Regions from separate parts of the Homo sapiens genome. Here region 1 is linked to region 2. The links come from fine-mapping of genetic effects on gene expression. Tissue or cell type: esophagus muscle. Region 2 holds a variant in brackets; the other region holds the start of a gene. All regions are shown on one strand. Distances are between the middles of the regions.

What was found. PIP is the estimated chance that this variant, and not a neighbour inherited with it, causes the effect.
Region 1: WHRN starts here. The variant in region 2 is fine-mapped to the expression of WHRN in esophagus muscle (GTEx, PIP 0.93).

The regions. Positions count from the first base shown.
Region 1 is chr9:114,501,312-114,509,311 of GRCh38, forward strand. WHRN (whirlin) reads right to left here and starts at 4,162. Exons shown (of 12, transcript NM_015404.4): 1 at 2,873-4,162. The coding sequence starts at 3,490. RefSeq lists enhancers at 2,651-3,541, 3,542-4,432 and a silencer at 3,957-4,256.
Region 2 is chr9:114,181,963-114,190,225 of GRCh38, forward strand. COL27A1 (collagen type XXVII alpha 1 chain) reads left to right here. Exons shown (of 61, transcript NM_032888.4): 5 at 1,060-1,113. Among named protein-coding and RNA genes, the nearest start is that of MIR455, 23 kb to the right of the region's middle. The variant C/T (reference allele first, on the strand shown) is at 4,363.

The DNA of each region.
Region 1 (8,000 bases), 320 kb after region 2:
TTATCTGGACCTGTCACTGCTGATTTTGCAAATGGGTTTCAAGAGAGGGGTGGAAGCCCCAATGGATATAGGATCAAATCCTCACTGAACTGCTTCAGGTAACAATGGATGCTTGATTTATCAGAAAGAGAAGTGGAAAAAACTTTGCTCGACCCACTCTTTAAAAAGCTGCAACTTTCCTTTATTCATAAATTATTAGGTAACTTGATTCCTAAAATTTAATTTAATTTAATTTTTATTACACACACACACACACACACACACACACACACACACTGAATCTCTCCGTTTGGGAAGCTCAGAGGATCTCCTCCCCCTCACCCCACCTTCCATCGCAGGAAAAAAAATATTGTTAAGACTGAAAACACATCTTCTACTAAATGCAATGTGGTATCCTAGAATAAAATAAGGACATAGGCAGAAAAACTGGTGAAATTTGAATGAAGTCTGAAGTCCAGTTAACAGTAATGTACTTTTACCATAAAATCCCCGACATGGTGACTCGCAGCACTGCAGTTTACAAAGAACGGCTCCCCGTGGAGAAATCCTGGTTAAGGGCAGTCTGTGCCTAGTAGAAAAGCTGGGGCCTCTTTCAGCTTTCAGTTAAGGGGCTTTTCGCTCTTAATTTTGTGGAAATGTGTCAACAGTTCTCCAGGTGTTCTTTTAAACTGTCCCTGAAACTACACGAGGAGTGCCATGGCCTCAGGGAAGAAGTTCCGCCTCCTCCATTTTAAAATTCCACCCACCAAAGAAAAGTCTGTCCTCTTTTCCTCCTGGGGTTAATGTAACACAAAGCAGCCATCATTTTGCCTGTTGCTTCTGAAGGGTCCAAAGGGTCCATGTCAGGCAGGTTATGTGTCCCGCCATGGCTAGAAGTGGGGTGACCCTGGGGCAAGAGCTCATTTTGCCAATGTAGCCACCTCTGTTGGGAAAATGACAGTCAAGAGACAGAGCTGCTCAGCTCACACAGGCTCCTGCACCACAGGCTGCCACACTTAAAGGACAGCTCTGCTCCTATCAACCTCTCCCTTGCCAGCAAGGGTTTATTCTCAGGCTTCAAAAACTATGACATGGAGAGTTTAGGTTTTACTCTGGAAGCAGCAAGAGTAAACAAACAAGCTAAAGGCTGGTGCTGCTCTGAGTCACAGTTTAACAGCACCATGGTGTTACTGAGGGAGATTCAGAGAGAAGATCTGGAGCGGGCTCAATGAAATGGTGGTGGGGGAAGGCGGGGGTGGCAGGCGGGGAGCACTGCTGGTAAACTGAAACTCACAGCCAAGCAGCTTGACCTTTATGGCACAGCTGAGTCTGGGGTGCAAATTGAAGGGACAGTCTGCGTTTTGAATGCCCAAGGTAACTGACAGCCTTTCCAAAGCATATCACCTTATCACCTTGTGACCGTTAAGTTACCCAAGTCTTTTTAAATTGCCACTAAAACTGAATCCACATTTACAAATGATCATTTGCCTCAAGTATCTTTAGTGCATAAATTTATCATCTGGGAACTCCAGACCATTTAAGGCCAAGGCTAATGGACTACTTCTTTATAAATATATGGAATGCTAAACAAAGGGAAAAGATTGATAGAGGGGGAAGAGGAATTGTTGCATGGAAACTCACAACGAGCTTTGCCCACTGCACCCTGATGCAGTATAAACCGATCGGCCTTTTTCCAGAAGCTACAAAGAAGTTTCTGAAAGCCTCAAGGGCTTCCTCCAAAGGGGTTGATGGGCTGGGAAGCAAATGAGGGAAGCCAACATCAGGTGCACAGCCAGGGAGACGGCTCAAGACTCACCTGGACACAGGCCACTGAACGGCACTCAGGAGGAAGTAGTCGTGGGCCTCTGCTGCCTAGGAGTTTCCCAGCAGCCAGCAGGCCCTCAGCTGGAGTTCAAAACACCTGCGCTGGCGGGGAGTGGGGGTTTACAGAACAGTCCAACCCCCTGAGAAGCATTTCTCTGCAGAAGCAGAGCATGTGTCCCTTTTCCCCCAAACTCTTCACTTCTTGTACGCAAAGGAGGTCGGGGGAGGGGGGAAGGGGGAAAAATGCCTGCAAAGGATCCATGAATCCACCCTGGACCCAACACTATCCATCATACTCCAACTGGTTTTCAGTAGCCCTGGGCTGTAGATCAGTAAGCACACACACTCCTTTAAAAAGCATGATTAAATCCCTGGAAGCCTGTTGTCATGAGGTTATATTTCTCAATTAACAAATGGCAGAAAGGACAAACACTCTCAGGGGCTAGGGAATTTATTTTTTACATTCAGGCAGGAGTCTCATTTCCAAAAAGGTTAGGGACCGCTTATTTGGTCCAGTGGCCCCATTTTCCAAGTGGAGAACAAGAGGTCCTGAGAGGGCAAGTGACTTGCTTCAGGATACACAACCTGGTCCAAAAACAGCAGCGTCAAGCCAGTGCACTGTGGATCACACAAACGGCCTCCTCAGGCCACTTAAGAGCTAACAAAACTGTTTCAGGGAAAAACAAAAAACAAAAAACCACAGAATGGCAGTAGCAAAGGCCACCTAATTATGCCAAGCAGAGATTTTATCTCTTTTAATGCTCATAAGAATCCACAGCCCTATTCACACATTGTAACCACACATTTGCTCAAGTATTTGTTACTATCACCTGCACTAGCTTTTAAGCCTCACAAAGGCAAGGGCCATGTCTGTGCAGAACTACGTTCCCAGTGCCTGAGAGCTATTTGCTCTGTAAGCTATACATTCCTGTTTTAAAGTATTAAAAAAAAAAAAAAAGCCCAGAAAGGCCAAGTGATTCATCTAAGGACACACAGCATGGAGTTACTGAAAAAGCTGTGCCACTCTGTCCATACTCTGCCCCAGACTCTCTCCAAACCACAGCCTTACCTTGACGGCCTCCGCGTGGGTCACCCGGGCCAGGGATTTGTCGTTGACGCGCAGAATCTGGTCCCCGACCCGCAGTCCTTCCTTCTCAGCTAGAGAGCCTGGTTCCACCAGAGACACGTAGATGCCCACGCCGTGCTCCGAGCCCCCACGGATGCTGAAGCCCAAGCCCTCGTGGGCCTTGGCACGCCGCAAACTCACCAGGCGCACCTCCCCTGGCCCCGCGCTGTCGGGGCCGCCCCAGGCGGGCTGCCTGTAGGGGGTGGTGGCGGGCAGGTAGAGGCCCTCGGCCGTGTATTGGTCGAAGAGCAGCTGGTCGGAGCGCGGGATGACCAGACGAAGCATGGGCAGCAGGCGCCGCTTGACCGGACTGTCCAGCAGCACGCGCAGGGTGCGCACCAGGTCGAAGACGTTGCGGCGCGCGTGGTAAGCGTTCAGGCAGTGGGTGAACTGCTCCCGCTCCGCCTCGCTCAGCAGCGCGGTCAGCGCTTGGTGCAGCTGGCGCACGTTGGCAGACAGTAACCGCAGCCCCGCGCCCCCGCCGCCGCCCGCCCCGGCCGCCGAGCCCAGCGAGCCGGTGGAGGACGAGCTCACCGACAGGCCGTCCAGCGGCGCGTTCATCTCCACGCCGAGGCCCGGCCGGGCTCTGAGCGCGCGGGGTGTGGGCGGTGCCGCTGTCCTCGCGGGTACTGGCGCGACAGCTGGATCCCCGGGAGCGCGGAGACGACGGCTGGAGCCTGGGTTTGGGGAGCACGGGTACAGTGGCTGGATCCTAGGGGGTCGCGGAGACCGCTGCTAGAGTCCCGGAGGCGCGAAGACGGCGGGGGTCGCGAACCTGGAATCCGGGGGACGCGGAGACGTCGGCGGGTTCCTGAGAGACACAAGAGTTGGCTGCTGGAGCCCGGAGGTGGCGGAGACTGCTGCTGGAGTCCGGGGGGCGCGGGGTCAGCAGCTACATTCTGGAGGGCACGGAGACGACGGGTGGCTGGAGTTTGGGGGCGCCGCAAAGCTGACCTGACTGCCCCGTCACACCATGCCCGGGGCTCCCCCAGCCGGGCGCCCGTTCCTCTAGGGCTGGGGGACCCCAAAGTCAGAAGTTGGGGCGGAGGGCGCTCTAGTCCCAGAGCACTCCGGGGAGTGGCAGCCGGTGAAGCGGCGCGGGCGTCCGACAAGGGGTGCGGGGCATGTCCGGGGCAGCCCCGGGATGCAGCCGCCCGGGGAGCCTCCGCGCCTCTGCGCCGCCCGGCCGCAAGCCCGGACTTTGCGAACTGTTGAGCCACCCGGGCCGAGTCTTCCAGCGAGTTCCGACGCCGTCTCGTTGCCAGCCCGGCCCGGGCCCCGCCCCCTCGTCCCTCCTCCTGCCCGCCCCCTCCCCACGGGCTCCTCAGGAAATGACGTCCCGCCCGGTGCGCCTGGCCGTTGCCTGGAGACGGGGTGAAACAGTCCAGCCCCAGGGAAGAAAGGGGTGAACGCGGCGGTAGGGGTGGGAGGAGCCCCCGCGTCCCCTACCCCGCCGGCAGAGCCGGGAGCGGGGCTCAGAAACAGCGCTCTTCGGCGGTCGCAGCGAGTGCCGACACCAGGATCGCTTTGGAGTAATTAGCCGGCTAGCTAATTCACAATTCGGGGGGAAATCGTCAAGTTTTTTGTTTGTTTGATTTTTGCTTCCAAAATACTGGGCACTTCAGTCTCGGTTTTCTTCCTTACAATGTGGCGCTCCCCTCCTGCACGCGCCCTGACATGACAAATTCCAGGGTTTATGTGGACGGTCGTTGGCCACCTACTGTGTGCGAGAGACGAATACAAGCATAGACTGCTGTCTGCCGGAGTCAACTCCGTGGCAGGGATGGATCAGGCTGGACCCCTTCCCAGTCTCCATTGCAAGGGAAAAGCCACTTTCAGAAATATTATATAAAGTGTACACCCCACGCTCGCGCACACACGTACAAATGAGCGCATATAAAACTGGTGAAATCTGAGTAAGGTGGGTGGATTTTATCAATGTCAATGTCCTGGTTGCCATCGTGTCAACATCGGGGGAAACTGGGTGAAGGGTACATGGCATGTCTATGTATTATTTCTTAGAACTGCATTTGGATCTACAATCTCAAAATAGAAATTAAAAATATACATATTTGAAGTGGCTTGGAGAAAAATCTCTTCTATGCTCTCCCATCCCTAGGCAAAATGGGAAGATACACCCAGGTGTGCCCTGGAGTCGGTCGTCACCCACCCAATCCCCCAAATAAGATTTAAGTAAAATCCTGTGCTTTTATTCTAATGGGGAGCTTCATAGTGCTACACACACACACACACACATACACACACACACCCTACCTCACACACATCCCTTCCAACCTGAGCTGCCTCTCCTAAGCTACTCTTCTATGTATTTTTCGTAAAAGTCTTCCAGAATTTCCATTGCAGAGCCAGCTGACATCTATCCAGGGTAGGGCAAGATGGAGGATTACCTGGAGGATTTGGTTTGTGGTGGACCCAGAAGGATAGATCATTCATTTATTTATTTATTTATTTATTTATTTATTTATTTATTTATTTGGTCGCTTTTCATTCAACGTTTTTGAAGCATCTGCTCTGTGCTGGGTCATGTGCTGGGTGCTGGAGACCCAGGGGAGAAAGATCAAATAAATAGAGTTAAAAACCAGTGTGATACCTGTTGTAATGGCGAGGGAGCCCAGGTTTAGGAGAGGAGAATATGGTAAGGACTTTACTGAAGAGGCGACACCTGAATGAAGAACCTGTAAGGAAAACGGACTTTCTCCTCTAGACAATGGGGAAGAGTGGAAAGGTTTTCAACACTGCTGACTTAATGCATTGAGGCTAGGAATGGAAGCTGTGTTTTCCCTAAAGATCTTCAATTCTTTACTTCCCTAAAACAGACATAGGTTAAATTAATGCCCAATAAACATATTTAACAGTGTGTCTGAGGAAGATTTTTTAAAAAATAGCCAATTAGGCTACCTTTGGCCATCTGTCTTAAAGCTCTAATCTTAGCAGTTAATGGTGTCTATCCTTATTCCTCCTTTGTAACTGTTGTTGAAGCCTTTCATGCAACTAGACCAAGATGTTTAAGGAAAAAAAATCAATCTTCTCCACCCCAAAAATGTATTAATGACATACCTCAAAATGCCACCAAGCAGGGCTTAATTGTATGCAGTTCAGGTTTCCTGCTAATGTGTTTCATGCTCAGCTCTCACTTAGTTTGTTTTAATTATAATTACTGTGATTGGTTTGATAAATGCATCCCAGGAGCTAAGATCCCCAGTCCCAACATTTTATTTCTGTGCAAAGGATGTTTTCAAGAAGGTGTTTTGCTTTAGGCAGCAGAAACCAGGCTGCATGCAGTCTTAGTAGAAAAAGAAACACTTTCTTCTGCAAACATCAGAGACCGTCTGAAATGCTGTGCTGTTGTTTAATTTCATAGAGGACGGTTTGGGAGGGCAGATGATAGAAAAAGAAATCGTTGGAGTTTCTTCCATCCATCTTACATAACCACCTTAGTATCAGTTTGCACTGTGTCCCCTCAGGCAAGAGGCAGTGTGTAACTGTGCTCAAACCTCCAGAATCCTATTTCATGTATGAAGATGTTTGTCATTCAGAAATAAGCTCTTGGAAATAAATGCTTCAGCTTCTGAGGGCTGCACTGCAAGACCTGGGAGAAAAACCTGAGTACACAACTTGCCCTTGGTTGCATACTGCCCTCTTCAGAGGGAAAATATTATTCTCCCATGCATGCAGCAGGCTTCCGTTTGCTTTCTTCACCAAAGCCACTTTTAATTGTTCATTAACGCTCCCCAGCTCTGGCCAGTGAATGCCCTTCCCTTCCCTTAGGAATGTTCCTGGAAACTTGAACACACTGGAGCAGTTGAAAAGACAGAAGGAAGAAGAATAAATTGTGTTGGGCGTTTTTCTTTTTCTTTTTTTTTCTAGACGGTCTCATTCTGTCACCCAGGCTGCAGTACAGTGGCATGATCATGGCTCACTGCAGCCTCCACTACCAGGCACAGTATCCTCCCACCTCAGCCTCCTGGTTAGCTGGCACTGCAATGCCTGGCTAATTTTTTGTATTTTTCATGAAGACAGGATTTCACCATGTTGCCCAGGCTGGTCTCGAACTCCTGGGGTTAAGCAATCCATCCACCTTGGCCTCCCAGGGTGCTGGAATTACAGATGTAAGTCACCACAGCAGGCCAGTGGTTTAGTTCCTATGTGTTGATTTTAACCAAGAAGTTGAGCTGCACTCTGGATACCAGGCAGAAAACCATTATTCCAGTCTCAGAGCTTCCCTTTAACTAGTTGTGTGACCCCACAGCAAGTGGCTTCACCTTTCATTTGTAAAATAAGGCTCCCAAACGTCCTGCCTCCCCAACATCCTGCCTCCCCAGAAGACAACTGCAACCTGTATGTTTCATGTTCTGTGCAGCAAATGAAAACATGTTGCAACTCATGGAGTAACATAGAGTTATTTTCCCTCTTTGTTATGTCAATCTTAAAAAGTCTTTTGCTAATAAATATTTCATAGTCATTGGAAGTGTCTCTCCTTTCCCTTTATCTGCTGGAATGTACCTTTAAAAGCAATGGAGATGAATTTGAGGTGCCTTTGCCATGGGACATACAGAAAAATAAAGCTAATGTTTATTGAGTGTCAAACTGTTTTAGACGCTTGTATTTTAACTCATTGTGTCCTCCCACTACTCTGTAAGGGAGATACCATCATCATCACCACCATCATCATCATGCTCCTGGTGAAACAGACAGGACATTGAGACATAGGGAAGTAACCATACCCAAATTTACAGAAGTAGTGAATGGAAGAGTTGGGATTTGAACCCAAACAGTCTGGCCGCAGAGCTCCTACTTTGAACCCCTGTGCTGTGCGATCCCCCCAATGTTTGGCTCAGAAATGCTGAACTGTCTCAGTATCTCTGCTGGGGCTGGTATGAGGACCACATTTTCCCATGGATGGGAATGGTATGAGGGTCACTCTTTCTCTAGAAAATTTGGCTGGGAATATCAAAGGTTAAAAACAAGCTACATATGAACGATTCCTGTTTCATAAGCTGACATTTTGTGGTGGAAGGAATGAACAGGGGTTTAGTCAAGAAGATGTCAC
Region 2 (8,263 bases):
GTAGCCACAGGAGAGGTGCACCTTTGTTCACAAGAGGTCAAATACATCCTTCTTGAGCTCTCAACTCCAAAGACTCATACAAAAGTCCAGTTGGGGCCAGCTGCCGTGGCTCACGCCTGTAATCCCAGCACTTCAGAAGGCCAAGGCAGGAGGATTGCTTCAGGCCAGGAATTCGAGACCAGCCTGGGCAGCATAGCAAGACTCCATCTCTATAAAATAATAATAATAAAATAATAAAAATAATAAAATAAAAATAATAATAAAATAATAAAAATTAGTGGCCCATGCTTGGAGTCCCAGCTACTCAGGAGGCTAAGGTGGGAGGATCTCTTGAGCCGAGGAGTTTGAGGCTGCAGTGAGCCATGATCATACCACTACAGTCTAGCCCAGGCGACAGAGCAAGACCCTGCCTCTAAAAAAAAAAGTCCACTTGAGACTGGAGGAGCCCTAGAGGGTTCCCCGGAGGAGATGGCACTTTGAGCCAGGCCTGAAGGATGGATCAGGTTTCAAGCAGAGGAGATGGATGAGAAAAGATGCTGCCAGATGAGGGAACAGCATGGGCAAACGCAACGAGGAGAGAAAGTACCAGATACGTGGGAGGGAAATGCATAGCTAAGTGTGGTTTGAGCCTGAAGAAGCTGGGAAGGGCTGACGGGGCTAGGCTGAGAGATGTGGAGAGGTGGTAAAATTTAGGGGTGAAGGACTTGTGCTCCGAGGTCAAGGTCCAGCTCTGCCTCTTAGCAGCTGGGTGATCTGAGACAGTTACGAACCTCTGTGAACATTGGCATCCTCGTCTTCAAAATAGTAATAACAACACCACCTACCTTCCAGGTTAACAGGATCAAATGAGATGGCACATGGGATGTGCTTCCCACTGGGCCAGGCATGGAGGGTGTACTCCCAAAAGTAGGCTGAGTGGCCACGACAGTGTTGCTAGGGCTTGGCTTGGGGAGAAGATAAACCAGTGGGTGGAGGGAAGGTGCCAGGCATTGCTGTCAGAGGCGAGATGGCCCCTGTTTTTTGTCACCTTTTTTTGTTTTTGTTCCTTGTCTCTTTCAGGGTCCTCCTGGGCCTTATGGAAATCCAGGTCTCCCCGGCCCTCCTGGAGCCAAAGTGAGTATTTGCTGGAGATGTGGCCATGGAGTGGGTGCTGGGGTTGGAGCCATGTTTGCAGTGCTTCCCAGGGGTGCCTGGTGGGAGGGCTTCAGGGGAACTGAGGGGGATTCCCGCCTAAGCCAGGGGCACCCTCTGGGCCCCTTTCCAGGGCTGGGCCCTGTGCCTGGTCCGGAGACACAGTGCTTCCGTCTGGGAGAGACTTGGGAGAGTCGGGCAGTTGGAACCCAGAGCCTTCAGGGGAGTGGGCAGAGAGGTGATTTCTTGCTAAATAGGGAAGGCTGGCCTTGAATGTCAGACTAAGAACATAAGGCTTACCGGGTTGTAAGATGCATCCTGGGGAGGGATGTGGAAAGATGACGTTTTAGAAAGCTCACTGGATGCCCTGAGGAGGATGAATGCGGGGTGGGGAACCAGAGCCAAGGCCGGGAGACCAGGGGTGATATGGGGGAGAAAGGAGGCTAGTCCGGGCCAACTTAGGGGTGTGGGAGGAGGTAGGGTGGAAAGGATGGTGGTGGGTGCAAGGTGAGAGACAGTTACAAACACCAGACAGTTTTTACCTCCCTGATGTTAGCCTTGGGGACTGAACTGGGTCCCAGGAGGAGGAGTAAGATGATGTTGCACGCAGGAACATGTAGCCCGGTCAAGTGATCATTCATGGACAGATATTCTGGAACTCAGGATTGCTCTGAGCTGGAGACAGAGCCAGGGGGAGGCTGGCGCAGAGATGCCACCTCCCCCAGGGAGTCTTCTTGGAATACTCGAATTCACTTTTAATGAGACCTTAGTGGCTGATGCTTTGATGATATGGGAACACCACTTGCTGAGCTCTTCAGTCTGTTCCCGGAGCTCTGGCAGAGGGCAAGGTTGTTGGGGCACTGCATTGGAAGTGAGAAACTCAGAGCACCAAGAGGATTGCCGGAGCCAGCAACATTTAGGTCATGGGAAAAGAAAGTTTGTGGAATGGCTGGAGAGATAGGAGGGGAAGGAAGATGCTAAAGTCCCTGAAGCTAAGAGAACAGTGCCTGTGCCGAAGGAGCTGTGGAGGGGGCAGATGGGCTCCTGACTCAGGGGCCTCCCAGCTCAGCCTGTGTCATCTGTGGGGTAACCAGGTGAAGAGCACCCCCGTGCTTTGGTTGGGCCAGGTCCCGGGTCATTCTTTGATAACCCAGCTGCAGAGGTTGAATGGCTTAAGGGAAGCCCTTAACTGATTGGCTCCAGGCCATGCACAGTGAGCTGCTGAGCAGCCTCTAAAGCCCATCTCTCCTGAGTCATGGAGTAGGGCTCCTTTTGGCCCATCAGCTTGTCTGGGAGCTTTGGACAGAGGTCTCACATGGTAGCCCTGGGCATATGGATCTGTGGTGTCAGAGTCTTGGGGCAGAGCAGAGTGCAGGAGCACTGGCCTCAGCCCCTCTAGATCTGTGACTCTACGTCCAGGGTTGGGCTGGGCTGGGTTCCTTTCCGGAAGGCAGGCAGTGGAGGCCTCAGGTGTCCAGTGCTTAGCAGCTGCCTGGAGGTGCTCTGGGCTTTCACAGGGTGAACACTGATGATAATAACAGCCATATACTGAACCCTTCCTGTGTGCCAGGCACTGTTCATGCGTTTGATGTGGCTTGTCTCATTTGATCACCACAAAGACCTAAAGAGATGGGTGGAGATACCGTACCCATTTACAGATGGGGAAACTGAGGCACGGGTCGAGTAAGACATTGTCTAGGAAATGGCAGTGGAGACTGCCCCCATGGGTCAGGCAGAGAGGCAGGAACTCATTTGGAGAGTTCTGCTTTGCAGAGGCCATGGCACATCAAGATGCCGAGCATCAGCAGCTGTTTTGAATGGCCAGGCTTGCCCCTTCCTGGCCTGCTCTGGGACCAGTGGAGCCTGTCTCCTCCCACCCCCAGACTCACTCCCTGCTCCTGTGGTAGCAGATGCTCCATCAGCCCCTTCTGCTGGCCCTGCTCAGAGCACTGTGGAACCTCAGTACCAGGCCCATGGTAGCCCACCCCAATCTTGCTAACAGATGTGCCATGGTAGGAGGAGGGCCTGCCAGCTGTTTCTCCTCGCATTTTGAACACATCTCTTAGTATGACCACTGAGGCTCCTCCCTAGCAAGTGAGTTCTCCTGCCACCACATGGAGCTGGGAACCATGGACTCAGGGCCTCATGGACAGGACTCCCATTTGCATCTGTGTATAATAGATAAGGATGTGGGTTCTATAAAATACACTGGAATCAGAGGCTGCTTCTCTCATTGGGACTTGCATAAAATGCCAGGGGGAAATGTCATGCCCTTTGCCTGGACACTTGGCCCTGAGGCCAAGGGTGAACAGAGGTGGCCCCAGAGCAGGCTGGTGGGAGGCCCAGTTAACTGGGCCAGGGCCCTAGGCTGATCTGTGGCATGGGCAGGACAAGGTTAAAGCAGAGGCCTTCCCTGGATGGAAGTAATGACTTGGCTGAGATTGGCTGAGAAAGCTGTGTGTCTGCATGAATGGGTGGGACCCTGGGAAGAGGGTCCTAGAGTCCTTACTGTTCAGCAGATCCCCTTTGGGATGGGAGGTGACCTGGTGGGACTGTAGGGCTGGCCTCCCCCAGGGCCTATGCTGTCCCGTCCTCTTCCAGCATGGTGTCTGGGGCCACACATCCATTCATCCTCCTTCAGTCAACAAACGTGTATTGAGCACCCACTACGGGCTGTTGACAGATAAATCAGTCACACTGTCAGGGCTTGCCCTGGGGGCACGGAACTGGATCAGCCCCATGCAGTCATCCCATCAGTGCATCTCCACCTTCAGGTGCTTATGGCCTTGTGGGAAGACGATCCCTCTGCTAGACTCAAGGGTGGGAGAGATGGGTGGTTTGAGGAAGACCAAGAAAGAGAGAAAGCAGAGGTGAGGGACCTCATCCCTCCGGAGGGTGCAGAAGAGTGAAAGTTCAGGAGGCCAAGGGACCTTGCCTAGATCACGGCTGGGCAGTGGGGGGACTGTATTTCAGATCCTTGGGTTTGCCTGCCAGAAGGAGCTTTGTCAGGGTGTCACAGCTGGCACAGGCCAGAGCCAGGCCACACCCCATCTTCCTCCTCCAGAGTCCAAGGCTTTGCCTATCTGCCAGCTACCCACATATCCCATGTTCCAATCCAGCAGGGAAGGGAGCTTGTCAGCTCCAGCACAGAGTTGGATCCAGGACTTTGAGAATGAGGCAGAGAAGCTAGGACCCTGAGAGGATGTGTTTCCGCTTAGAGCGGTGCTGACC[C/T]GTGGCAGGTGCTGCAGAAGGGGCAGTTGTCTGCATGTGTGAGGCACTGGGGCTACCAGGGACACAGGCAGGCATGGTCCCTGCCCTTGGGGAGTGTAGAGGTGAGCGAGAAAGCAAAACAAGCCAACCATATTGACAAATGCAGACTTACACCATGATTAGGTCTCTAGGGCTCCATGTGAGAGGCCCGGAGTGCTCGGAGACCCCACGATATGGGGATTGATCTAGTCCGGGAGGTGAGGGACACCTTCTCAGAGGGCAGGAAGGTTGAACCAAGGTCTAAAGTATAGTGGACGACTAGGCAAAGGGGCTGGAGGAGGCTGGTGAGGGCAACAGGCCTGGTAGTTTGCGGTATGATTTTCGGACTTTATCCAAAGAGCAGCTGGAAGACCTGGAAAGGATTTCAGCAGAATTGACATGACTGGATGAGGTCTGCAAACGCCATTTAGGCCATTTGAGAAGCAGAGCTTGGCTGGTGGCCAGATGGAGGGCTGGAGCTGCCCCTGGGGCAGGGTGCTGATGCTGGACCATGGTGGAGTCAGGTGGGATGCAGGTCCTTGGTGCAAATGAGGAGCTCTAGGGCAGAGGTGGGGGTCTCCTTCTGGATAGGGAAGCTAGTGCTCCCCGCCAGTGCTCCCTGCACTGGGCCATGAGGCTCCTGGTTCCACTCTTGAGCAGCCAGCCACCTTGTCTCTGGTCTGGTCCACTTGGTCTGCAGTGAACTAGCCAGGATGATATGGCCCTCAGACACTGGGAAGGAGATGTGGTCAGCAGAGGGCAGGCTCCATGGCCCAGGTGGCTGCTGGCAGAGCTAGTGTGAGCTTTACCTTTCCTCTTCCTCTAATGTTCCTTCCTTTGGGCCAGGCCCTGTGCTGGGCACTTGAGATCAGAGATGGAGTATGCAGGGGGCTTCCAGCCCAGAATATTTTAATCCTTTGTGATTTAGTGCTCATTTGTCTCAGCCCCACCCTGGGCCTCAGCCACCCAAGGAAAATATGGAGAAGTCCAGAAGATGTCAAGAAGAAAGTGAGCTATCTGTAGTGGTCCTGCCCAGTAATAAGCTCTGAGAGCACTTTGAGCAACCTTTGGGCCAGGCCCCGGCCAAGAGCTTTATGTACTTTGCAGGGCAGGTATTATTACCCCCATTTTACAGATGAGGGAATAGGTCCAAGATGCTAAATAACTTGCCCAGTGTCACATTTCTAGTAAGTGGCAGAGCACGCATTCAAACCCTCAACTGTCTGACCTCAAGGTGTCAATCTAGCCCTCAGCTCCACAGCTCTCTGGTCTTCCCTGTGTGTGTCACATATGTGAGTGTGGATCCACTTTGTAGTGGCTGGGTATCTGGCCTTCCTCACTTAACAATTATTGTGAACATTCTCCTGTGTTAGCAACTTGGCATCCATCACATATGATTTAATAGCTTCATGGCATTTTATCAACACTAATATCCCATGCTTTATATAACTTACTCCATTAGTAAAAAAAAATCAGTTCCACTTTAAATTAATATACAAATATTATCTTGATTAACATTACTGTATGTAAATGTTAGAATATCTCCAATTATTTCATTAGGATAAGTTCATCAAAAATAGAATTGCTGATGTGGTCTCAGGAGTCAGTGTGCCCAAGTTTGAATCCTGGCTCTACTGATGCAGGGCAGACAAGCCCCAAATTGGGGATTAGCCTGGGAGGGTTTTTGGCTTCACTCAGGAAAGAATTCAACAGCCAGCTGGTGGTAGAAGAAAACAGCTTTATTGATGTGGCAGTACAGCTCCGTGACTGCTCCGGCACAGCAGGGCTACCCCATAGGCAGTGTGCTGACAGTAACGGTTCAGAGGCAATTCTGCAGTCATATTTATGCCCACCTTTAATTATATGCAAATTAAGAGGCAGAGTATGCAGACATTTCTAGAAAAGTGGTGGTAACTTCCAGGTCATCAGGTCATTGCCATGGAAAGGGGCAGTCACTTTCAGGTTGTCACCTGAGAGGTGATTCTACCTCATGCCTGTTTTAGCTAGTCCTCAATTTGGTCCCAAGTCCAAGCCCTGCCTCCAGAGTCAAGTCTCATCTCCCACCTCACTACCATTTGCTGCTTGTATGACTTTGGGCAAGTTACTTAAAACTTGGAGGGCCTCAGCTTCCACTTCTGTAAAACAAGGATGATCATAGTTCATACCTCATAGGATTGTTCTGAGGATTAAACTGTGTGTGTGTGTATGTGCACACATATATGTGTATTTATATATGTATATGTAGACATATATCAAGACATATACCAAGATATATTTGTATATACATACACAGGCATACATACACATATATACAAATGATTTATAATATGCCTTGCACATGAGAGACATATAAGTGCTTAGCTGTTATTTTATTAGCAATTGCCTTCTAGAAAGGTTAAACTGATTTATGCTGCTGCTAGCATTAAAGGAAGATATTTTTAAAAGAAGATAATTTATTATCATTTTCACTTCATTGATCATCTATGAGATGTATGTTTTTCTTAAATCTCTTTTCCATTTGTACTTCACCACTTATGAGTGGGTTTATTTTGGAAGGTTGGGATGTTGCCATTTGTTATTGGTTTGTAAACATTATTTTGAGGTTATTAAGGCTTCATCCACCTTACAAATATTTTCTAGTTTGTTGTTTGCTTCTTAAGAGTATTCATGATGATTTTCACAAATAGAAATGTTATCCTTTAAAAAAAATAATGTGTCAGATAATCTCAGGAGGGCTCTATTCATCTATAAAATCTGTGGTTCTTTATTTTGCTTTTATACATAGGAATGTTTTTCCCATTTTAAGGTCAGATAGGTATTCATTTATATTCCTTGTAATTTCATAAAATCATTTGTACTCTTAAAAAATTAAAACCATCTGGAATTCATGTTAATGGGGGTGATGGAAATGAAGTTGGGCTCCAGCATTATTTCTCCTCCAACAGTTAACCACTTGTTAAACCATCTTTCCTCCACTGTTTACTCTATGATAGACATGGGTCTAATACAAGCCATTGTATTATGTTTCATTGTTTATTTATTTTTATGCTAGTAAAATACCAATTATATGACATTTACTATCTTTATTCTGTGTATCCTCCTTCTTTTCTTCATTTAAAACATTTCTGGCTATTTATTCTATCAGATGAACCTTATGCCTATCTTAATAATTTCCTTGAAAAAACGCTTGGGATTTTTACTGGAATTGTAATTAAATACATATATTAATTTGTGAAGAATTGCCGTCTTTAAAATATTACATTTTTCTATCTAAAAACATGGCATGTCTTCCTATTTGGTTGAATTTTTACAATGTCTCTTAGTAAACTTTAATGGTTTTTATTACATAAGCCCTGCACATTTCTTATTAGGTTTATACTTAGAAATTTTATATATTTTTTTGCTGTCCTGAATGGAATATTCTCCCCATTATATTTTCTAGATAGCTCTCATCTAGTGAAAATAACTATTGATTTTTGTATTTTTTTACTTTTTGTATTTAATTTATAACCATCCCCTTACTGAATCACCTTATTAATTCTATTAGTATTTCTGTTGGGTCTCCTGGATTTTATAGATAGGCATTCACATTATTTGCAGAAAAGAACATATTGTTGTCTCATTTTCCTCAAAGGTTAGTAGTTCTTATTTATTTTTCCTGCCTTATTGCATTGTCCAGAACTTCTAGACCCATGAAAATAGTCGTACTGATAGTGAGAGGCCTAGTGAAAATTCAGAGACAGTTCTGGGGCAGGAGCCAGATTTGACCCATTCCTATCCCTACCATTGTCTCTTGAGACTCTGTTCACTCATTTGCTCATTTGTGAAACATTTTATGTTGACTTCTCTGGGCCAGGCCCTGTGCCAGATACTGAGACCAAGG